3 separate regions of the Homo sapiens genome follow, and all the other regions are linked to region 2. The links come from fine-mapping of genetic effects on gene expression. A gene starts in region 2. Each other region holds a variant in brackets. All regions are shown on one strand. Distances are between the middles of the regions.

Evidence for each region.
Region 1: its variant is fine-mapped to the expression of JTB in tibial artery (GTEx, PIP 0.93).
Region 3: its variant is fine-mapped to the expression of JTB in thyroid (GTEx, PIP above 0.99). The same link has a PIP of 0.9 or more in aorta, caudate, fibroblasts, left ventricle, spleen and testis.

The regions. Positions count from the first base shown.
Region 1 is chr1:153,948,484-153,956,487 of GRCh38, reverse strand. CRTC2 (CREB regulated transcription coactivator 2) reads left to right here. Exons shown (of 14, transcript NM_181715.3): 2 at 1,322-1,423; 3 at 1,499-1,615; 4 at 2,172-2,233; 5 at 2,882-2,950; 6 at 3,119-3,222; 7 at 3,654-3,683; 8 at 3,853-3,917; 9 at 4,042-4,091; 10 at 4,226-4,470; 11 at 4,822-5,228; 12 at 7,104-7,373; 13 at 7,844-8,004. Among named protein-coding and RNA genes, the nearest start is that of DENND4B, 5.8 kb to the right of the region's middle. The variant G/A (reference allele first, on the strand shown) is at 4,792.
Region 2 is chr1:153,974,386-153,982,389 of GRCh38, reverse strand. JTB (jumping translocation breakpoint) reads left to right here and starts at 4,716. Exons shown (of 5, transcript NM_006694.4): 1 at 4,716-5,220; 2 at 5,377-5,414; 3 at 5,615-5,697; 4 at 6,485-6,564; 5 at 7,555-8,004. The coding sequence starts at 5,138. The coding sequence ends at 7,711. RAB13 (RAB13, member RAS oncogene family) reads left to right here. Exons shown (of 8, transcript NM_002870.5): 8 at 214-740. The coding sequence ends at 291. It overlaps JTB-DT (JTB divergent transcript), which reads right to left and starts at 4,647. Exons shown (of 1, transcript NR_186180.1): 1 at 3,230-4,647. RefSeq lists silencers at 4,243-4,537, 4,826-4,875 and enhancers at 4,546-4,595, 4,597-5,245, 5,895-6,544.
Region 3 is chr1:153,901,172-153,909,171 of GRCh38, reverse strand. All of the region lies in intron 1 of GATAD2B (GATA zinc finger domain containing 2B), which reads left to right. Among named protein-coding and RNA genes, the nearest start is that of GATAD2B, 18 kb to the left of the region's middle. RefSeq lists an enhancer at 3,998-4,499. The variant C/T (reference allele first, on the strand shown) is at 3,838.

The DNA.
Region 1 (8,004 bases), 26 kb after region 2:
CTGCCCTCCTCCCCATGGCCTTGCCCTGGGCCTGTTTATTTGGCTGGTCGCAGGGGCTGAGCCTTGGAAATAGATGCTCACCTCTCACAGAGACAGGATGTCTGTACACAGGCTAAACCCATGCCAGGCTGTCTTACGCCTATGCCAGACATAGCTCCCCAAAGTGAGGATGAGACCAGGAAGATGGCCCTGGCCCATGCTGGAGTGGGCTGCTGCTCTCTGTCCACCCTCCTTCTCCAGGCTTCCCTGCCAATTCAAGAGCCTTAGGATTCAGTGGAAGAATGTCCCTTGGTTTTGGTGCTGTTTTTCCAGCTAGGAGAGCTGCTATTCCTTGGATGTTCTAGTTTGGGAGGTGCAGGCTTTGTGTAGCCTTCCTGAGGCTGGGCAAGTGGCAGAGCCCAGAAGCCTGTGCTCTCCAGAGTGGGAAGGAAAGAGGCTGGCAGTAATGGCTCTGTGACATCCACCTGTGGCCTTCCTCTTAATCTCTCAATTAGTCCTGGACGCATCTGGAAAGAAAGCAGAGGTTCCTAATAGGCACTCCCCCTTGTGAGTAGCCCGGGAGCTCCTGGCAGCCCCTCAGGGACTCTGCTTAGAGTGATGCCAAATGAGACAGGCCCTCAGCAGAGTATCTGTCTCTGCCTGGCAGGATGATGTCAAGCAGTAGTGATATCATTGATGAGGGCAGTCTGCAGATGGGCTCTGGTGGGTTATTTGCACCAAATCTCGGTGGACCTTTCAAACCCCAACACTGGCCTTTTTTTTCTGGCAGATAATTTCTTTATTTTTTTTTTAACTTTTTTTTTTTTGGAGACAGGATCTCAGTCTGTCACCCAGGCGGCTAGAGTGGAGTGACATAAACATGTCTCACTGCAGCCTCTACTTCCTGGGCTGAAGTGATCCTTTTTTTTTTTTTTTTTTTTTGAGACAGAGTCTCTCTCTGTTGCCCAGGCTGCAGTGCAGTGGCACAGTCTCGGCTTACTGCAACCTCCACCTCCCAGGTTCACGCCATTCTCCTGCCTCAGCCTCCCGAGTAACTGGGACTACAGGCGCCCGCCACCACGCCCGGCTAATTTTTTGTATTTTTAGTAGAGACAGGGTTTCACGGTGTTAGCCAGGATGGTGTCGATCTCCTGACCTTGTGATCCGCCTGCCTCGGCCTCCCAAAGTGCTGGGATTACAGGTGTGAGCTACTGTGCCTGGCCTAGATATTTTAAAAGCAGTGGCGGCAGCAGCATATCCTGGTGACAGAGATGGCAAGGATGGCTGAAGGAAATAGTGCTCAGGACCCTCCTGACATTCCCACTTGTTCCCCATGTCTCAGTTACAGGCCCAAAAACTGCGACTGGCATACACAAGGAGCTCTCATTATGGTGGGTCTCTGCCCAATGTTAACCAGATTGGCTCTGGCCTGGCCGAGTTCCAGGTGAGTAGACCCCAGCCAGGGAGGAGTGGAGTTTCTTAGGCTGCTTCCTCTGCTGACTTCTGTCCTTTTTGGCAGAGCCCCCTCCACTCACCTTTGGATTCATCTCGGAGCACTCGGCACCATGGGCTGGTGGAACGGGTGCAGCGAGATCCTCGAAGAATGGTGTCCCCACTTCGCCGATACACCCGCCACATATCCTTCACAGGGGACTTGGGAGTGTCTGAAAGGTAGTGGGATGGGGTTCCTCAGGGACTCATAGGAAGCACTTGAAGTGTTGTGCGTCCCTTCCTTCTCTTGGAGCTCTTCTTTACCCAGCTTCCCTGAAAAGCGACCATAGCCCCTGCGTCAGCACCTGCTCCTGTGACAAGGAGTTTTGCTCCTGAGGCTGTGCCCCCTGTCTCTGGCTGGCTCTGGCTGTCTTCACATCAGCTTGCTGCCAGAGGCAAGCCTTCCTTGTCTCCTGCTAAAGGAGATTGGGTCTCTTCTCAGATTTCTAAGTTTTCAGTCTCAGAGACCTGCATAACTGTCTCCTCCAAGCCCTGCCTGAACATTCTCCTGGATTTTTTCAGCCCCTTTAGACCTGATTCCCTTTTTCTCTTCCATTCTTTGATCCTATTGTTGTCCCTTATAGAAGAGGAGAAAGGTATGAGTTTCTTGAAACAACTTATCTGCTGCCTTCATTGTTCTTTCCTCATTTGGCCTCTCTCATCTGTCCTCTCTACTTTTTTCCTTAACTGGTGCTGTTCACATTGACAGCTCTCCCTATAGTCCTGCCTACTTATCTCCTCCCCCAGAGTCTAGCTGGCGAAGGTAAGTGTCCAGGGCGGGCAGAAGCTCCTGCCTACTCTCTGACGTGTTTCTGGAAGGAGTTGCCCCTTCTGGGTTGGGGCTGGGATTACTGGGCTAAGGTTTCAACAGTACCTCTTCCTATAACGCCAGGGCTGAGAGAGGTGGAGACAGTTGGAGTAGGTGGGTCAGAGTCCAGCCTTGGCCATGTTGACACTAGTGGTCAAGCCTCCCAGTCCAGCCAGAGCAGAACCAATGGGAACCATAGCCAGGCTGGGGTGTGTGTGTAAGGGGGAGGGGAGAATGGCAGAGGGGCAGGTGAAAATGGCAACCTTCTGTCAAGGGTGGGTGCAAGATGTAGTGTTCTGGCACTTTTAGATTTCTTAAACTCTCCCCTTGTCCATCTCACTTTCAATGCTCATACCCAGGAATGCTGCTGGGCTCCAAGATTCCCATTCAGCTGGTCCTGGCAGAGAGAAGTTTCCAGCTCTCTTAGATTGACTGGGGGAGGGGTCAATCATAGGCAGGAGAAGAACCAGAAAGAAAAGGGGATGATCTGGGTGCTCAGCCATCTTTACTTCCACCTTAGCTGCCCCACATTTTCCAACCCCTATGCCCACCTTCTTGTCCACTGCCAGCCTTCCTCCTCATGACTTTGTTTTTCTACCCCAGGACGATGGCCTGGGGCAATTTCCCTGCAGAGAAGGGGCAGTTGTTTCGACTACCATCTGCACTTAACAGGTGATGGCTTTTGCCTTCTTTAGGCCAGATCTCTTATCTGTAGTTTCTGGGGCCCTGCTCCCTCACCCCCACCCTGTTCCAGACCAGCTAGTGTTTTCCCTTGCTGGGCAGGGCTTAGGGACCAGGAAGACTGTCACTGGTGTCAGCTCATTCCTGCTCCCCCCATAGGACAAGCTCTGACTCTGCCCTTCATACAAGTGTGATGAACCCCAGTCCCCAGGATACCTACCCAGGCCCCACACCTCCCAGCATCCTGCCCAGCCGACGTGGGGGTAAGTGGCCCTGTCCCAGGGTTGGGAGTAACCATGGAGCTATTTATTTATTTATTTATTTATTTATTATTTCTTTCTTTTTTGAGACGGAGTCTCACTCTGTCGCCTAGGCTGGAGTGCAGTGGCGTGATCTCGGCTCACTGCAACCTCCGCCCTCCGAGTTCAAGCGATTCTCCTGCCTCAGCCTCCTGAGTAGCTGGGATTACAGGCATCTGCCACTGTGCCTGGCTAATTTTTTGTGTTTTTAGTAGAGATGGGGTTTCACCATCTTGGCCAGGCTGGTCTTGAACTCCTGACCTCGTGATCCACCTGCCTCGGCCTCCCAAAGTGCTGGGATTACAGGCATGAGCCACCATACCCGGCCTCCATGGAGCTATTTAAAGCAGGTAGGCAAGTGAGCACTGCAGCCAATGCCACTGTATCCCTTGCAGGTATTCTGGATGGTGAAATGGACCCCAAAGGTATGTGTTCCTCACTGCTGTGGGTACTGAATGCCAAAGAATTTCTGGGCTGGTGTTGGGATTGTGTGCAGGTTCAGGGAGCAGGACTCCTTCCCACCTGCTTCTGCTTCCTGTCCTGCCTTACTGGCTCTTTCTCCAACTCTCCCATCACCAGTCTTTCTCTTTCAAGTACCTGCTATTGAGGAGAACTTGCTAGATGACAAGCATTTGCTGAAGCCATGGGATGCTAAGAAGGTAGGAGGAGGCCACCGGGTGTCACCCACTAGTCTCTCTGCTATCCCCTTGCCATGGGGCAGGCCTTCCAGGGTTCTCTGCTGAGCACTGTCCTCATTTTCCATATTCTCCCTTCTCTCCTCAGCTATCCTCATCCTCTTCCCGACCTCGGTCCTGTGAAGTCCCTGGAATTAAGTAAGTACTCCCTGAGGTTGGCTGAGAGGTGGGGGAAGGAAGTACAGGGAGATGTAGGAGACTGATCTCTGCTCTTCCCTGACCACTGCACCCACCCTCCTATTTACATCTTTCTTTTTCTCTCCTTCCCCTAGCATCTTTCCATCTCCTGACCAGCCTGCCAATGTGCCTGTCCTCCCACCTGCCATGAACACGGGGGGCTCCCTACCTGACCTCACCAACCTGCACTTTCCCCCACCACTGCCCACCCCCCTGGACCCTGAAGAGACAGCCTACCCTAGCCTGAGTGGGGGCAACAGTACCTCCAATTTGACCCACACCATGACTCACCTGGGCATCAGCAGGGGCATGGGCCTGGGCCCAGGCTATGATGCACCAGGTGAGTGACTGTCCTGGCCATGTGCCCACTGGGTGCTGCCTGACTGGAGGGATGAAGGGGAGGTAGGTTTGAGCACCTGAGATCCTGCTGTGATCACCCACACCGCCTGTCACCTCTGCACCCCAGGATTCCCTCACGGCAGTTCTCAGCCAGTGATAACTGGTAGGTGTGGTGTTTCCTAGAAAGAAGAGGAAGGGCAGTCCCCAGATGGGCAGTGCTGTCAGGGATAGAGTAGGGAGGACGTTGTGTTGCCGCTTTCATAGTCTGGTCACTGCCACCCATTCTGGGTGGAAAGGGGCTCAGTTCCCATCAGTAATGTTG[G/A]CATCTCTGGTTTTTTGTCTGTGCCTGCAGGACTTCATTCACCTCTCAGCCACCCATCCCTGCAGTCCTCCCTAAGCAATCCCAACCTCCAGGCTTCCCTGAGCAGTCCTCAGCCCCAGCTTCAGGGCTCCCACAGCCACCCCTCTCTGCCTGCCTCCTCCTTGGCCCGCCATGTACTGCCCACCACCTCCCTGGGCCACCCCTCACTCAGTGCTCCGGCTCTCTCCTCCTCCTCTTCCTCCTCCTCCACTTCATCTCCTGTTTTGGGCGCCCCCTCTTACCCTGCTTCTACCCCTGGGGCCTCCCCCCACCACCGCCGTGTGCCCCTCAGCCCCCTGAGTTTGCTCGCGGGCCCAGCCGACGCCAGAAGGTCCCAACAGCAGCTGCCCAAACAGTTTTCGCCAACAATGTCACCCACCTTGTCTTCCATCACTCAGGTATGCGTGGCTGCCTTCCCTGCATGTCTGTCTCCCTTCCCTTTTCTCCTGCCATGTTGTTTCCCTCCCACCCTCCTTTCCTGAAATACCTACTCTATACTCATCCCCTTCCATTCCTCTGTCCTCCGCCTGCCCCATCTTTTATCCATCTTGTCTCCTCTTGCTTCACAGTGCAAACCCAAACGCTGTGGTTAAGCTTTTTTAGCTTCAAACCCTGGCTCCACCTCTTACTAGCAGTCACCTTGGACAAGTTATTTAATTTCTATAAGCCTCAGTATTTTCATTTCTAAAACAAGGATGGTTCATAAGGATCAAATGAAGTAACATACATAAAATACTTAGCACCACACATAGCCCAGGTATGCTTGACAAATAGTAGCTTACCCTTTCCTTTTATTTGCCTCCTCTGTTCCTGTCTGTTTTATATCTGTCTTTTATCTCATGCCTCTATCTTGTCCCGTCTCCTCCCCTGTATCCCCTCCTAATTTCATAGAATTCGTAGAATCAGTCAATTTCCTACTGTGGAGCCCAATTCCTTCACTTAATAGATGAGGAAAGTGGGACCTAGAGGGAAAGTGACTTTTCCAAGTTTACCCAGCAAGTTAGGAAGAGTTGAGACTAGAACTCGAAGCTCTTAGTTTAGGGCTTTTTCCACAGAGATGAAATTCTTAGCCCTTGTCTCCCTTCCTGTCCTTTTCTTCTTGTTCTCTATCTCTACTCCTCTTTTCTTTCATCCAAATGCTCTTTTCCCTCTCCTCTGCCCAACTTTTCCTCCTCCATTGCTATCCCTGGAATGTGTGTTCTGTGTTCCATCTTTACTCAGGTCCCCTCTTTTGTAGGAAAGACTGAGGCCAGATTAGCAAGGGCTCTGTTCCCAGAGTGTGGAGTGAGCTTGACTTCCCTTCCTTTCTTTCTCCTTTTCTTTCTTTCTTTTCCCACCCCCTCTGGCCTCTTCAAGGCTGTAGAACAGCAGTTCTCAACCTTAGTTCCTTATTTACTAACAATAAATAGTTCAAGTATCAAGATTTAAGAATGGTTTACTTCTAAGGCTAGGCACAGTGGCTTATGCCTGTAATCCCAGCACTTTGGGAGGCCAAGGCGGGAGTTCAAAACTAGCCTGGTCAATATGGTGAGACCCAGTCTCTACAACAAATAAAAAATTACCCAGGTGCAGTCGCGCACGCTTGTAGTCCTGGCTACTGGGGAGGCTGAGATGGGAGGATCACTTGAACCAGGAAGGTTGATGCTACAGTTCCAACTATGATTGCACCACTGTACTCCAGCCTGGGCAACAGAGTGAGGCCCTGTCTCAAAAAAAGAGAATAGTTTACTTCTGGAGTAGATTTAAAATTACCCCTGTGTTAGCCTCACTATATCACTTTCATTCTGATAGGCACTTTTTTTTTTTTGGAGACGGAGTCTCGCTCTGTTGCCCAGGCTGAAGTGCAGTGGTGTGATCTTGGCTCACTGCAACCTCCCACTTCCTGGGTTCAAGCAATTCTCCTGTCTCAGCCACCCGAATAGCTGGGACTACAGACGCCTGCTACCATGCCCAGCTAATTTTTATATTTTTAGTAGAGACGGGGTTTCACCATGTTGGCCAGGCTGGTCTCGAACTCCTGACCTCAGGTGATCCACCTGCCTTGGGCCTCCCAAAGTGCTGGGATTACAGGCATGAGCCACCACACCCTGCCAACTAATACACATCCCTGGGGTTGAGTAACTGCACTCAACCCCAGGGATGCCCGTGAGAATGTGGAATGTTGTCATGTTTGTTTTGGGAATGGTTGTAGCTAAAGAAGGTGGGAAGCTCTGACTGAGAGTTCTTGGGGTATACACTGAGCAGTAAGCTTCCCTCTTTTTACTTCTTTTCAGGGCGTCCCCCTGGATACCAGTAAACTGTCCACTGACCAGCGGTTACCCCCATACCCATACAGCTCCCCAAGTCTGGTTCTGCCTACCCAGCCCCACACCCCAAAGTCTCTACAGCAGCCAGGGCTGCCCTCTCAGTCTTGTTCAGTGCAGTCCTCAGGTGGGCAGCCCCCAGGCAGGCAGTCTCATTATGGGACACCGTACCCACCTGGGCCCAGTGGGCATGGGCAACAGTCTTACCACCGGCCAATGAGTGACTTCAACCTGGGGAATGTGAGTACTCAGGCTCCTTGCTCAAAAGCAGGGGAGTGGGTGAGGGTGGGTCAATGGGGCCTGAATGGCATGGCTGGTGCACTGTGAATGGGGAGATCTAGGTGGGGTGGGTGGTGGGGAGATCTCCTCTCCCCGGAGGTAACATAGCACTGCCAGCTTGGGGCTCCTCTCTTCCTGCGTTTGACCCTACTCCTGCCCCTCTATTTCTGCTCAGCTTGCTCTTTGATGACTTCTGCCTTGACCCGTTCTCTTCCTGGCATGCACATGCTCTGGCCCAGCAGGTACGGTGCCCATACTTACTTCGGGCCCCGTGCTCGCTTCTGTCGCTCTGCTTGCTGCCACCTCCCTCTGTCATTGCCTCTGTTCCTGGGGTGGATGAAGGTTGCTGGGCAAAGGGGATATGTTAGCAGGGCTAGGCAGGACACCAGTTCTAAATCCTACTTCCTAAAGATTTGTCTGTATGTCTATAGCTGGAGCAGTTCAGCATGGAGAGCCCATCAGCCAGCCTGGTGCTGGATCCCCCTGGCTTTTCTGAAGGGCCTGGATTTTTAGGGGGTGAGGGGCCAATGGGTGGCCCCCAGGATCCCCACACCTTCAACCACCAGAACTTGACCCACTGTTCCCGCCATGG
Region 2 (8,004 bases):
TAAGTTGGTTTTGCTGGACTAGGTACAACTCTGGGGTGTGTGTGTGTGTATGTATGTGTGTGTGTGTGTGTGTGTGTGTGTGTGTGTTGGTGTTGATAAAAACGGGGAGCAATGCTAAGATTTCTCATGAGGGTGGATTTACTTTAAACAGTTTATACCCTCCTACCCTAACCATCCATTCACACCATGACACCTGTGCCCTTCTCCCTCTAGGGAAACGGCAACAAGCCTCCCAGTACTGACCTGAAAACTTGTGACAAGAAGAACACCAACAAGTGCTCCCTGGGCTGAGGACCCTTTCTTGCCTCCCCACCCCGGAAGCTGAACCTGAGGGAGACAACGGCAGAGGGAGTGAGCAGGGGAGAAATAGCAGAGGGGCTTGGAGGGTCACATAGGTAGATGGTAAAGAGAATGAGGAGAAAAAGGAGAAAAGGGAAAAGCAGAAAGGAAAAAAAGGAAGAGAGAGGAAGGGAGAAGGGAGAGGAATGAATTGAGGAAGTGAAAGAAGGCAAGGAGGTAGGAAGAGAGGGAGGAGGAAAGGAAGGAGAGATGCCTCAGGCTTCAGACCTTACCTGGGTTTTCAGGGCAAACATAAATGTAAATACACTGATTTATTCTGTTACTAGATCAGGTTTTAGGGTCCTGCAAAAGGCTAGCTCGGCACTACACTAGGGAATTTGCTCCTGTTCTGTCACTTGTCATGGTCTTTCTTGGTATTAAAGGCCACCATTTGCACAAATGTTCCTGTTTTGGGTAACTTGGATTATTGTCAGAATTGTTCTCCACTCAAATCCAATTATTGTGTCTTCAAAGTGATTGATTTACCCAAATCAGGCTCGGTTTCTGTGGAACCAGGACTAATCCTACTGCTGTCTCTTCCCTAGCTGTTCTGTTGGTAAGGAAAATAGCAAAGAGCAGGAGGTAGAGTGATCTGAAGGTCTGGATATCCTCTTTCCGCCATGGGGTCCGGATGCCCTTGTGGGCAGAGCCTTGTCCTGAGCACAGGAAATTCCCAGCGAGAAGAACTCTAACAGTCCTAGCCTCAGGGAAATAACTGCACCTAGTGATTTATCCAGTGATTTGTGCAAGCTTCTTTGATTCTGCCAGCAATCCATTTAGTTATTTGATAGGCATTAATATCTGCTTTTATTAGTGAGGAAAATGAGAAGTTCATTTATTCATATATGTATATTGAGCATCTACTAAGTGCCAGGCACAATGGTCAGTTATTTTATTTATTTATTCATTTATTTTTAGGGACAGAGTCTTGCTCTGTCTCCGAGGCTGGAGTGCAATAGTGCGATCTCAGCTCACTGCAACCTCTGCCTCCTGCCTCAGCCTCTCAAGTAGCTGGGATTACAGGCGTGAGCCACCATGCCTGGCCAATAGTCAGTTAATATAGCCCTTTGGTGGTACTTACAAGCAGAGGGACAAGGACTTTTTTTCTTTTTTAAGACCGAGTGTGGCTCTGTCGCCCAGACTGGAGTGCAGTGGCACGATCCCAGCTCACTGCAACCTCTGCCTCCCGGGTTCAAGCGATTCTCCTGCCTCAGCCTCCCGAGTAGCTGGGATTACAGGCACGTGCCACCACACCTGGCTAACTTTTGTGTTTTTAGTGGAGACAGGGTTTTGTCATGTTGGCCAGGCTGGTCTTGAACGCCTGGGCTCGAGTGATCAGTCTGCCTCAGTCTCCCAAAGTGCTGGGGTTACAGGCGTGAGCCACTGCGCCCAGCCTGGGACAAGCAAACTTTAACAAAAACAGCTCTTTGGCTGGGCGTGGTGGATCACAACAGGAGTTCAAGACCAGCCTGGCCAGCATAGTGAAACCCCGTCTCTACTAAAAATACAAAAAAAAAAAAAAATTAGACAGGAGTGGTGGAGGGCGCCTGTAGTCCCAGCTACTTGGGAGGCTGAGGCAGGAGACTCACTTGAACCTGGGAGGCAGAGGTTGCAGTGAGTTGAGATCACACCACTGCACTCCAGCCTGGGTGACACAGCCAGACTCTGTCTCAAAAAAACAAAAACGAAAACAAAAACATCTCTTTGCTGAATAACAAAGATGGCAAAACTACTGGAAATGCAAAAGAAAATTCAGGCTTGGGCCGAGCACGTTGTTTCATGCCTGTAGTCCCAGCACTTTGGGAGGCCGAGGTGGGTGGATCACTTCAGGTTGGGAGTTTGAGACCAGCCTGGCCAACATGGCGAAACCCCATCTCTACTAAAAATACAAAAAAAATTAGCTGGGCATGGTGGTGGGTGCCTGTAATACCAGCTACTTGGGAGGCTGAGGGAGGAGAATCGCTTGAACCTAGGAGGCAGAGGTTACTGTGAGCAGAGTTCGCACCATTACACTCCAGCCTGGAGACAGAGCGAAACTCCATCTCAAAAAAAAAAAAAAAATTCAGGCTTGATGCACAGCATCCTTAAGTATATATATATTATATTATATTATATATTACAATGTATAATTATATATATTATATATTAAATATATAGGAAATATATAATATATATAACATGTATATGTTTATAAACATATAACATATTATATATAATATATAATTATATATTATACATATATATTAAATATATATTATAATTATATATTTAATATATAATATATTATGTTTAATATATAATTATATATAATTATATTATGTTTAATATATAATATATAATACATATTTTAATACATAATATATATATATCCCCCTTTCACCATACATAATATTTTTTACACAGCAAAATGTAATAACTTGATAAATGTAAGTATCCAAGCATTGATGAGGTAATGATAAACCTTATTTGTGGCTTATGCTTAAGTTCTTTTTTTTTTCTTTTGAGATGAATTCTTGCTCTTGTTGCCCAGGCTGGAGTACAATGGTGTGATCTCGGCTCACCGCAACCTCTACCTCCCGGGTTCAAGTGATTCTCCTGCCTCAGCCTCACGAGTACCTGGGATTACAGGCATATGGCACCATGCCCAGCTAATTCTGTATTTTTAGTGGAGACGGGGTTTCTCCATGTTGGTCAGGCTGGTCTTGAACTCCCGACCTCAGGTGATCCGCCCACCTCGGCCTCCCAAATTGCTGGGATTACAGGCGTGAGCCACTGCGCCCAGCTGTGTTTGAGTTCTGTAGTAAACTGTCCGGTAGGTTTAATTTGCTCAAGCGATGAGGAAAAGACTTGCACTTTGTGCCTCCTGGGAAAGAGACTAACGTCTTCAACATACCTTATGGCAGATATTTAATTTCAGAGTAGAGACCCCACTCTGATGCCTGGTAAGGTTATTGGAAGTGAAATATCACAAGATCTTACAGTTTGTTGTGAGATAAGGTAGGATTTGGTGAGGAGTAACAAATACTAGCAGATTTCGGCCCAAACTTCAATTATAGCTAAACATTACTGGAAAAAACCCCACAACCTACTTTATGTAACATATAACTACTCACACACATACACAAAAATAATACACACACAATTTCAGCAAACACAAATAATAATTTAAAGAAACAAATTCAAAATTAGAGCCAGGTATGGTGGCACATGCCTGAAATCCCAGCTACTTGGGAGGATCCCTGAAGACGAGAAGTTCCAGGCTGTAATGCGCTATGATGGCTCCTGTGACTTGCCACTGCACTCCAGTCTGGCAACATAGCCAGAGTCCATCTCGTTCAAAAACAAAAACAAACAAACAAAAAACGGCGAAATGAAGGCTCAGCCCTCATCAGGTTTAGGTGACAGAGCTAGACCCTGTCTAAGAAAAAAAATAAAATTAAATGAAAATTCGTTATCAGACAGTAAAGCATGAACCCACAGTGCTGGTCAAGTCACTGCAGATCTGAGTGTGTATCAAGGTTTAACTCCATAAGATGAAAAGCAGGCAATGAATCTTTGGCCTGGGTGTTGACAGTCTAGGCTCAAGCCTCAGCTTTCCCACTCATTAGCTTGCTGACCTTGGACAAGTCACTTATATTCTCTGAACTTACTCATGAAACGGAGATACATTTCATCTGCCTCTCGCAAGAAAAAGTCCTGGTAAATACACATTAGCATTTCCGTTTTACACAGAACACTGACAGATACTTTCCTAAGATCATGGAGTTAATAACCACCAGAACCTAGACTCAATACTTATGGAACTTCAAATCTCATGCTTTTCTCATTGCACTTATGATTACTCCATTATGTAGGAGCAAGGGAGAGTTGAGAGCATTTGAAGAGGTTATGCAAAGGACCAGCTCTGAGGAGTAGGCTTAGCAAAGTAACATGAGGGAAGGTAACACCGTTCATCTGTGTAGCGGAGTGGGAGCCAAGAGACAAGGAGAAAGTTTCATGTTCGTCATGTGTCTCGGATATTCCGGTTTCTGCAGGGACGAGAACGCGCAGTTTCGCCTCCATCCCTTGACCTCCAACACAGCTTCTCCACTGGATCATCGGTGGCGATGAAGGGGCGGCTGGGGAAGGATGTCAGAGAAACCAGAAGCTTGACGGTGAATCCTCGGGTTTTAAGGAGAGAGCAAAGTCCTGAGAGGGCGACGTATTGTCCCTGCTCACCTAGCCCAGAATGAACAAACACGCGCCAGCCAGGGAGCAGCGAGCCGAGAATTCGGACGAGCCTCTGCAACCGCCATTTGCCGTTCTCGCAAAGACTACCAAGACCACAATGCAACGGGGCGCCGAGCTAATTCCCAGTGAGCAGCAGGCGAGGCGCCACCGACGCGGAAGACTATAAGCCCCAGCGGGCGACGACCGAACGCCCCCGGGAACACCGGGCCCCGAGCTCGGTCCCGCGCCCGAGGATCCTCCACGGGGCTAGATGGCTGCGTCGGGGGCGGGAGCGGAGGTGAGCGGGCGCTAGGGCCGCGAGCCCCCGCCGGCCCTTCCTCCAGCGCCCTGCGGACCCCGCAGAAGGCGCTCGCCTCCCTAGCCCGCAAAAACATATCGATTTTTCTCGCTGTGGCAACGGGGACGTCCTGATAGATCCTCTGCTCCAATAGGCAACTCCGGCCTTCCCTGCCCTGACCTGGAACCTCTGGGAGGGCTGCAGAGTAAGTGCCGCCTCTGCGCTCCGACGGAGGCACGAGGCCTGTGGAGTAGGTCCCTCTGTTCCGACAGGTGCGACACTTGGCGCTCCATGCTTGCGGGTGCCGGGAGGCCTGGCCTCCCCCAGGGCCGCCACCTCTGCTGGTTGCTCTGTGCTTTCACCTTAAAGCTCTGGTAAGGAGGAGGTAAGGGGAGGGAAAAGGAGGTCACTGGAGGACAGGATCGTTCCCGGCCTCGGGGCTGGGGGAGATCTTATCCATGGACAGCGCAGGAGGGGGTGCCCTATTTTCTGGGTTTTGACTTTTGTCCCTTCCCCCAACTCCGCTACAGCCAAGCAGAGGCTCCCGTGCAGGAAGAGAAGCTGTCAGGTGGGTGATTGTCTGGGAACCCGACACGTCCCGTCGTTTGTTTTTGGTTTTAGTATCTTCCCCATATACCAAGAGCACAGGTGGAAAAGGCCGGCACCACATGGAATGAGGGCAAGCGCTGTGCCGGGAAGTTGGATGGGCAGAGCCTGGGAGAAATGTTTTCTGAATGGCCTGGGGCTGGCATTTATCTTTCCTTTCAGCAAGCACCTCAAATTTGCCATGCTGGCTGGTGGAAGAGTTTGTGGTAGCAGAAGAGTGCTCTCCATGCTCTAATTTCCGGGCTGTGAGTATCTATTTCTCTACCCTTTTTTTTTTTAAACATCTAAGCAAACACTTAAGCAACATCTTAACATCCAAGTCTTATTAAGCTGCCTTTGCATCATCTTTTTTTCTTTCTTCTTGCAGTCTCAGTGTATGTCCAAATCTGTACTTGTCTTTCCCCTGAAAATGTGCCCCTTTCTTTCCAAGCTAATGGCAGTATTCAACTGATAACTATGGTTTTTTTGTTTGTTTTTGAGACGGAGTCTCACTCTGTTGCCCAGGCTGGAGTGCAGTGGCGAGATCTCGGCTCACCACAACCTCCGCCTCCCGGGTTCAAGCGATTCTCCTGCCTCAGCCTCCTGAGTAGCTGTGACTAAAGGCGCGTTGCACCATGCCTGGCTAATTTTTGTATTTTTAGTAGACTCGGGTTTCACTGTGTTGGCCAGGCTAGTCTCTAACTCCTTACCTCGTGATCTGCCCGCCTCGGCCTCCCAAAGTGCTGGGATTATAGGCGTGAGCCGCCACACCCGGCCTCAAATAACTATGTTTTATTCACTTTTAGTATAGTAGGCTCTGGAATGGAATGTATCTTTGCCACTCCTAGACTGTTGCCCCTGAAGTGTTCTAACATACATTCGTAATCATGCAACCACCACCTCCACCATCCGCATCAGAACTCTTTCATTAGCTCTCTGTTGCCTACCACTCCAAACCATAGCAGTTGGGCACCTGCACCTTCTGAATGGCAGCCTTTTTGTTTATCCTGTTGCCCCTTCCTAACATGTACTTTGCTCCTTTTCTCCTGGCAGAAAACTACCCCTGAGTGTGGTCCCACAGGATATGTAGAGAAAATCACATGCAGCTCATCTAAGAGAAATGAGTTCAAAAGGTGAGTGCTGTTTCTCTTCTCTGAGATCACCTCCTTTGCTCCTATGACTTTAGATGGATGGTCCCACCTTTTCCCCTGGTCTGGGGGTAGCATGGAATATCTGAAAGAAGAGGGGGCCGGGCTCACACCTATAATCCCAGTACTTAGGGAGGCTGAGGCTAACAGATCACCTGAGGTCAGGAGTTCGAGATCAGCCTGGCCAACGTGGTGAAACCCCATCTCTACTAAAAATACAAAAATTAGCTGGTGTGGTGGGTGCCCATAATCCCAGCTACTTGGGAGGCTGAGGCAGGGAGAATCACTTGAACCCAGGAGGCAGAGGTTAGAGTGAGCCAAGATCATGCCACTGCACTCCAGCCTGGGCAATGGAGCGAGACTGTGTGTCAAAAAAAAAAAAAAAAAAAAGAGGCTGGGAGGGGTGGCTCACGCCTGTAATCCCAGCACTTTGGGAGGCCGAGGCGGGTGGATCACGAGGTTAGGAGTTCAAGACCAGCCTGGCCAAGATGGTGAAACCTCATCTCTCTTAAAGATACAAAAATTAGCTGGGCATGATGGCGGGCACCTGTAATCCCAGCTACTTGGGAGGCTGAAGCAGAAAACTGCTTAAACCCGGGAGGTGGAGGTTGCAGTGAGCCAAGGTCACGCCACTGCACTCCAGTCTGGGTGACAGAGCGAGACACCATCTCAAAAATAATAAGAAAGAAGACGGGATTTGGAGCCAAATTACTTGAACCCAAGTCCCAGCTCTACTCCTCAGCACTATGTTATTGGCCATATTTTCTCATCAGTAAAATTGGTTAATACTAGCTCTGCTTATCCAGAGAATAAATTAAATGATCTATTTGAGAGGGATTTATGTACTATACACACAATAGAAGCCTGGCTCTGATTTCCTCTTGAGTGTATCCTGGCTAGGCTGAAGTAGAAGGGAAATTAGAGGGAGAAGCTGTCTGGCCTTCCTTGGGAATAACTATTCCTTCCTGCCCTCAGCTGCCGCTCAGCTTTGATGGAACAACGCTTATTTTGGAAGTTCGAAGGGGCTGTCGTGTGTGTGGCCCTGATCTTCGCTTGTCTTGTCATCATTCGTCAGCGACAATTGGACAGAAAGGCTCTGGAAAAGGTCCGGAAGCAAATCGAGTCCATATAGCTACATTCCACCCTTGTATCCTGGGTCTTAGAGACCCTATCTCAGACAGTGAAAGTGAAATGGACTGATTTGCACTCTTGGTTCTTTGGAGCCTTGTGGTGGAATCCCCTTTTCCCCATCTTCTTCTTTCAGATCATTAATGAGCAGAATAAAAAGAGTAAAATGGTTTCCTTCCCTTCTGTAACTTGGAGCAGGAAGTCATGGGGGCAGAGAGGGAAAGGAGGTGGTTACTTAAGGCCCCAATCTACCAAGTCTTCCCCACCACTTCTCCCTTGTTTTCCCCCTCTTCTACT
Region 3 (8,000 bases), 73 kb after region 2:
ATGCAGTTGTGTGATCATGGCTCACTACAGCCCTCACTTCCTGGGCTCAAGTGATTCTTGCGCCTTAGTCTCCCAAGTAGCTGAGACCACAGGCACATGCCACCATACCCAGCTAATTTTTAAAATAAATTTTGTGGGGATGGGAATCTCGCTGTGTTGTCCAGGCAGGTCTCGAACTCTTGGGCTCAAGCAGTCCTCCTACCTCGGCCTCCTAAAGTGCTGAGATGTAATCCGTGTTCCAGAGCACTTTGGGAGGCTGAGGCAGGAGAATTGCTTGAGCTTAGGAGTTAGAGGCTGCAGTGACCTAGGATTGCACCACTGTGTTCCAGCCTTGGGGATAAAACACAACCTTGTTTCTTTCTTTCTTTCTTTTTTTTTTTTTTTTTTTTCCAAGTATGTTTCTAGGCCAGGTGCGGTGGCTCACACCTGTAATCCCAGCACTTTGGGAGGGCCAGGCGGGCGGATCACCTGAGGTCAGGAGTTCAAGACCAGCCTGATCAATATGGAGAATCCCTGTTTCTACTAAAAGCATAAAATTAGCTGGGCGTGGTGGCACATGCTTCTAATCCCAGCTACTGGGAAGGCTGAGGCAGGAGAATCGCTGGAACCCGGGAGGCGGAGGTTGCAAGATTGCGACATTGGATTCCAGCCTGGGCAACGAGCGAAACTCCGTCTCAAAAAAAAAAAAAGTATGTTTCTGGTGTCAAAAAGTCCTGGGTTCAAATTTCTGCTCCACCGTTTAGTTAGTTGTAAGATCTTTTACTTAACTTCTCTGTGCCTGACAGATTGTAAATGTCCAGTAAATGTTAGTTATGTTTTACTTTTCATTTTTTAAAATTTTATAGCGATGGGGTCTTGCTGTGTTGCCCAGGCTAGTCTCAAACTCCTAGGCTCAAGCAGTCCTCCCACCTTAGCCTCCCAAAGTGGTGAGATTACAGGCATGAGCCATGGTACCCAGCCTGTTAGTCATTCTTGTAAAAAAGATAATGGTAAACCTGGCACATAGATGTGTGCGTGCGTGAGTGTGTGTTTGTGTTAAAATGTACATAACATAAAATTTACCATCTTAGGCTGGGCGTGATGGCTCACGCCTGTAGTCCCAGCACTTTGGGAGGCCAAGGCAGGCAGATCATGAGGTCAGGAGTTCAAGATCAGTCTTAGCAACATGGTGAAACCCAGTCTCTACTAAAAATACAAAAATTAGCTGAACGTGGTGGCGCATGCCTGTAATCCCAGCTACTCAGGAGGCTGAGGCAGAAGAATCGCTTGAACCCAGGAGGCGGAGGTTGCAATGAGCCGAGATCATGCCACTGCACTCCAGCCTGGGTGACAGAGCAAAACTCCATCTCAAACAACACAAAAAAAATTAGCTGGGTGTGGTGGCAGGCATTTGTAGTCCCAGCTACTCAGGAGGCTGAGACAGGAGAATTGCTTGTACCTGGGAGGCAGAGGTTGCAGTGAGCCGAGCTCACGCCACTGCATCCCAACCTGGGTGACAGAGCGAGACTCCATCTCAAAAAAAAAAAAAAAAAAATTTACCCTTTTAAAGTATACAGTTTAGTGGCATTAAATACATTGATGTTGTGTAACCAACACCAGCATTAATCTCCAGAACTTCTTCATCTTCCCAAACTGAAACTTTGTATATATTGAACTATAACTCCCATTCTCCCCTCTCCGCAGTTCCTGGCAGTCACCATTCTACTTTGTTTCTATAAATTTGACTACTTCAGGTACTTCATATAAATGGAATCATACCACATTTGTCCTTTTGTGTCTGGCTTATTACACTGAAAATATCTTCATGATTTATCCATGTTGTAGCATGTATCAGAATTTCATTTTTTAAGGCTGAATAATATTCCTTTGTATGTAAATATCTCATTTTGTTTATCCATTCATCGGTTGGTGGATATCTGGATTGTTTCCGCCTTCGGCTGTTGCAAACAAGGCTGCTGTGAACATGACTGGGCAGATATCTGCTTGAGTCCCTGCTTTCGATTGTTTTGCGTATAGGATATATATCCAGAATTGAAATTGTTAGATCATGATAATTCATGATAATTCGGTTTTTGAGTAATTGTTACAGTTTTCCACAGTAACTGTATCATTTACATTTCTGTCAGCAATGCACAAAGGTTCCAGTCCCTCCACGTCCCTGCCAACACTTGTTATTATTTTTTGTTTGTTTGTTTTTGAATAGGAATTCTAGTGGATGTGAGGTGCTGTCTCATTGTGGTTTTGATTTGTAATTCCCTAAGATTAGTGATGTTGATCATCTTTTCAGGTGCTTATTGGCTATTCGTATATTTCCTTTGGAGACATGTCTATTCAGATCCTTTGCTTAGTTTTTAATTGGGTTTTTGTTGTTGTTTTTGTTTCTAAGTTGTAGGAGTTCTTTGTATATTCTGGATTTTAATCCATTATCCACATATATGATTCTCATTCAGTGGGTTGCCCTTTCACTCTGTAGTGTCCTTTGATGCACAAAAAATTTAATTTTGATGAAGTCCAGTTTATCTGTTGTTTTTTTTTCCTTTTTTGCCTGTGCTTTTGGTGTCTAATAAATCATTGTCAAGTCCAACATCATGAAGCATCTAAGAGTGTTAGCTCTTCTGTTTAGTCTTTCATTTATTTTGTGTTTTTTCTCATTTTTTTAAATTTACTTTTTGTATTGTATCATTTTTGTATTGCTGTAAATGTGTTACAGCAACTTGTAAAAGAACAATATTTTGTGTTAATTTTTTGTTGTTAAGACAGAGTCTGGCTCTGTCGCCCAGGCTGGAGTGCAGTGGCACAATCTTGGTTCACTGCAACCTCTGCCTCCCAGATTCAAGTGATTCTCCTGCTTCAGCCTCCCGAGTGGCTGGAACTACAGGCACACGCCACCACACCTGGCTAATTTTTGTATTTTTTAGTAGAGATGGGGTTTCACCATATTGGCCAGGCTGGTCTCGAACTCCTGACCTCAAATCAAGTGAGATCAAGAGAGCCTCTGGCTCTCCAAGTGCTGAGACTACAGGTATGAGCCACCACGCCTGGCCCCACACTGTTTTGTGTGTGTGTGTGTGGGGTGCGGGGGAGGGGAGCTTTTTTTTTTTTTTTTGAGAGGGAACCTCCCTCTGTCACCAGGCTGGAGTGCAGTGGCGTGATCTCGGCCCAGTGCAACCTCCGACTCCCAGTTTCAAGCGATTCTCCTGTCTCAGCCTCCCTAGTAGCTGAGATTACAGATGTATGCCACCACACCCAGCTAATTTTTGTATTTTTAGTAGAGGTAGGGTTTCACCATGTTGGCCAGGCTGGTCTCGAACTCTTGACCTCAGGTGATCTGCCCACCTCGGCCTCCCAAAGTGCTGGGATTACAGGCGTGAGCCACTGCACCCGGCTTTTTTTTTTTTTGTTTGAGAGACTGGTTCTTGCTATGTTGCCCAGGCATGGTTTCAAACTCCTGGGCTCAAGCAGTTTTCCTGCTTCAGCCTCCCGAGTAGCTGGGATTACAGGCAGGTGCCACTATGCCGGGCTACCACACTGTTTTGATTACTGTAGTTACGTAGTAAGTTTTGGAATCAGGAAGAATGAGTCGTCTGACTTTGTTCTTTTTTTTTTTTTTTTTTTTTTCCAAAATTGTTTTGGCTGTTTGGGCTTCCTTGAGATGCCATATGAATTTTAGGATGGGTTTTTCTTTTCACATAGTTTTTTACTTTGGGCTAAAAATCTGAATGGGATTCTGCTCAGTTATAGATAGTTTTTATTTCACCTAGGCCCTTGAATCACTGTATTTTTCTTATTTTTTTTGAGACCGAGTCAGGCTCTGTCACCCAGGCTGGAGTGCGGTGG[C/T]GTGATCTCTGCTCACTGCAACCTCCACCTCCCGGGTCCAAGAGATTCTCCCTGTCTCAGCCTCCCAAGTAGCTGAGACTACAGGGCGCCTGCCACCACGCCCGGCTAATTGTTTGTATTTTTATTAGAGACGGAGTTTCACCATATTGGTCAGGCTGGGTATTTTTCTTTATGTATTGTGTTGCTCTTGGCCAGGTGCAGTGGCTCATGCCTGTAACCCCAGCACTTTGGGAAGCTGTGGCAGGCAGATCACCTGAGGTCAGGAGTTCGAGACCAGCCTGGCCAACATATAGTGAAACCCCGTCTCTACTAAAGAAGACAAAAATTAGGGCCAGGGCGGTGGCTCATGCATGTAATCCCAGCACTTCGGGAGGCCAAGGCAGGCAGATCACCTGAGGTCAGGAGTTCGAGACCAGCCTGACCAATATGATGAAACCCCGTCTCTACTAAAAATAGAAAAATTAGCCAGATGTGGTGGCAGGCGCCTGTAATCCCACCTGCTCGGGAGGCTGAGGCAGGAGAATTGCTTGAAGCAGGGAGGCGGAGATTGCAGTGAGCCGAGATGTGCCACTGCACTCCAGCCTGGGTGACAGAGCAAGAGACTCTGTCTGAGAAAAAAAAAAAAATTAGCTGGGCCTGGTGGCACACGCCTATAGTCCCAGCTTCTTGGGAAACTGAAACAGGAGAATTGCTTGAACCCATGAGGTGGAGGTTGCAGTGAGATGAGGTCATGCCACTCTACTCCAGCCTGAGTGACAGAGCGAGACTCTGTCTCTCAAAGAAAAACAAAAAGAAAAATTATGTTGCTCCATACATCTTTGCTCTTATAAATGAATCATTTTGTTATGGTTGGAGCACTTTCTTCTTGTTTTAAAGTTTGTTTTCACATTTTAAAAAATTAAGATATAGAGTGAAAACTTTCTTGTCACTGTCTTTTAACTTCCTAGTTTTAAACCCCATCACTGTTTTTCCATTTCTATCATATTAGAGTTTCTTTATACATATACAAGCTAATATTTATTTATTTATTTATTTATTTATTTATTTATTTATTTGAGATGGAGTTTCAGTGTTTCACCCAGGCTGGAGTGTAGTGGCGTAATCTTGGCTCACTGAACCCTCTGTCTTCCAGTTTCAAATGATTTTCCTGCGTCAGCCTTCCAAGTAGCTGGGATTACAGATGCCTGCCACCACGCCCGGCTAATATTTGTATTTTTAGTAGAGACTGAGGTTTCTTCATGTTGGCCAGACTGGTCTCGAACTCCTGACCTCGTGATCCACCCGCCTTACCTTCCCGAAGTGCTGGGATTACAGGCGTGAGCCACCGGGCCTGGCATATCTATTTATTTTTAAGACAAGGTCTCATGCTGTTGCCAACGCTGGAGTGCAGTGGTGCAGTCACGGCTCACTGCAGCCTTCACTTCCCGAACTCAGGTGATTGTACCACTTTAACCTCTCAAGTAGCTGGGACCACATGTGCGTGCCACCATACCTAGCTAATTTTTTGTATTTTTTGTAGAGAGGGGATTTGCCATATTGCCCATGCTGATTTTCAACTCCTAGGCTCAAGCTGTCTGCCCGCCTCAGCCTCTCGAAGTGCTGGGATTACAGGTGTGAGCCCCACACTTGGCCAATGTTAGAACTTTATTGGGAAAGAATATTTAGGCATATGGTAAAGAGTATTTAGGTATATTGTAATATGTCCTGTTAACAGAAATTCTGTACTTTTCCTGTTGCTTACAATTCTGCTATTTAATGATTTTCATCGCTATTATTTTGTTAACATTGAACAATTTGAGTACTACTAGTACTCAAAAGTACTTTAAAGTATTTAAACTTAGTTTAGGAATGCTGATTGCCTAGTTCATGAAGTCTTATTTTATAATTTCATCTGTAATCCTGAATCTCAAACTATGGCAGAAAATCCAGGGCTCTGAGCAATGATATGAGTTTATTTTTCCAATTTCTGGAGTGAAGATTCCAGATGCTTTTCTCTGTCTTAGGCCTATTGTCTCGAAAAATGATAGTTAATTGTTCTGATAGAGAGAAAACTTGGGTCTGGTCTCTTGTCCTGCTTGTCAGAGCTGCTTACTTTGTAACCACTTTTTTTTTTTTTTGAGATGGAGTCTCGCTCTGTCGCCCAGGCTGGAGTGCAGTGGAGCGATCTCGGTTCACTGCAAGCTCCGCCTCCTGGTTTCACTCCATTCTCCTGCCTCAGCCTCCCGAGTAGCTGGGACCACAGGCGCCCGCCACCACGCCCGGCTAATTTTTTTGTATTTTTAGTAGAGATCAGGTTTCACCGTGTTAGCCAGGATGGTCTCAATCTCCTGACCTTGTGATCCCTCTGCCTCGGCCTCCCCAAGTCCTGGGATTATAGGCGTGAGCCACCGCGGCCGGCTGTAACCACTTAAATCTGCTGGTTGTGGGAAACTGCAAAGGCCTCCACATAACATTTCTTGTATGCCTACTATGTAAAGTAGTATGTAAAAGATATAAACATAGGTACGTTAGAGGATATAAAGATAAATTACAAGAAGATGCAGTCAGTAGACTAAAGACTACATGTATTAAAAGACTGCAGCTGGGCTTGGTGGCTCACACATGTAATCCTAACACTTTGGGAGGCTGAGGTGGGAGGACTGCTTGAGCCCAGGAGTTCGAGACCAGAGTGGGCAACAAAGTGAGACCCCATTTACAAAAAATATAAGAAAACTTAGCAGGGTATGGTGGTATGTGCCTGTGGTCCCAGCTACACAGGAGGCTGAGGTAAGAGAATCCCTTGAGCCCGGGAGGTTGAGGCTGCATTGAGGCATGTTTGAGCCACTTCACTCGAGCCTGGGTGACAAGAGTGAGACCCTGTCTCAAAAAAAGGAATACAATAATTATAATACTAGGTATAATATGTTTGTAAATTAAGTAACTTGCATATTAGGAACAAGTACCCCTTAAGTAGGAATTATACCCTCATTCAGCACTTTTTACACCTTGGCTGTAAGTATGATAGGCTTACCAAATCCTGAAAATTCTTTTTTTTTTCTTTTTTTCTTTTTTTTGAGATGGAGTTTCGCTCTTGTTGCCCAGGCTGGAGCGCAGTGGCGCAATCTTGGCTCACCGCAACCTCCGCCTCCTGGGTTCAAGTGATTCTCCTGCCTCAGCCTTGCTGAGTAGCTGAGATTGCAGGCATGTGCCACCATGCCCAGCTAATTTTGTATGTTTAGTAGAGATGGGGTTTCTCCATGTTGGTCAGGCTGGTCTCGAACTCCTGACCTCAGGTGATCCGCCTGCCTCAGCCTCCCAAAGTGCTGGGATTACAGGTGTGAACCACTGTGCGCGGCCTTTTTTTTTTTTTTTTTTTTGAGACGGAGTCTGATTGGCCCCTGCTCTCCTCCTGATTATCCCTGTTGCCCCAAGGCCATTTTAGACAGGACCGGGCACGTTCAGGGTGGTATGGCTGTAGACACCAGGGCCATTTTATTTAATTTATTTATTTATTTATTTATTTATTTATTTTTAGCAAGAGTTTTGCTCTGTCTCCCAGGCTGGAGTGCAGTGGCACGATCGTGGCTCACTGCAGCCTCCACCTCCTGGGTTCAAGTGATTCTCCTGCCTCAGTCTCTCAAATAGCTGGGATTACAGGTACACGCCACCATGCCTGGCTAATTTTTGTATTTTTAGTAGAGATGGGTTTCACCATGTTAGCCAGGCTGGTCTCAAATTCCTGACCTCAGATGATCCACCTGCCTCGGCCTCTCAAAGTGCTGGGATTACAGGTGTGAGCCATCGGGCGCAGTTGGACATTTTAACCAAAGAAAAATCAATCAGCTAGTTAACTTTCATGGAAGTATCAAAATGGTGTTGTCCAGTGAAGTCTCATCTTGAATAAATTTAACTCTAATGCACTTCCCCTCTACGCATCACTCTCGTTATTAAAGTTCCTGATTCTCATTTTGCCTTGGAGATGTGATAGTTTTATTTATTTATTTAGAGACAGAGCCTTGCTTTGTCACCCAGGCTGAAGTGCAGTGGCATGATCTTGGCTCACTGCAACCTCTCCACCTGGGTTCCAACGATTCTTGTGCCTCAGCCTTAACATACAAACATATAAATTTTTTTTTTTTTTTGAGGTAGAATTTTGCTCTGTTGCCCAGGCTGGAGTTCAGTGG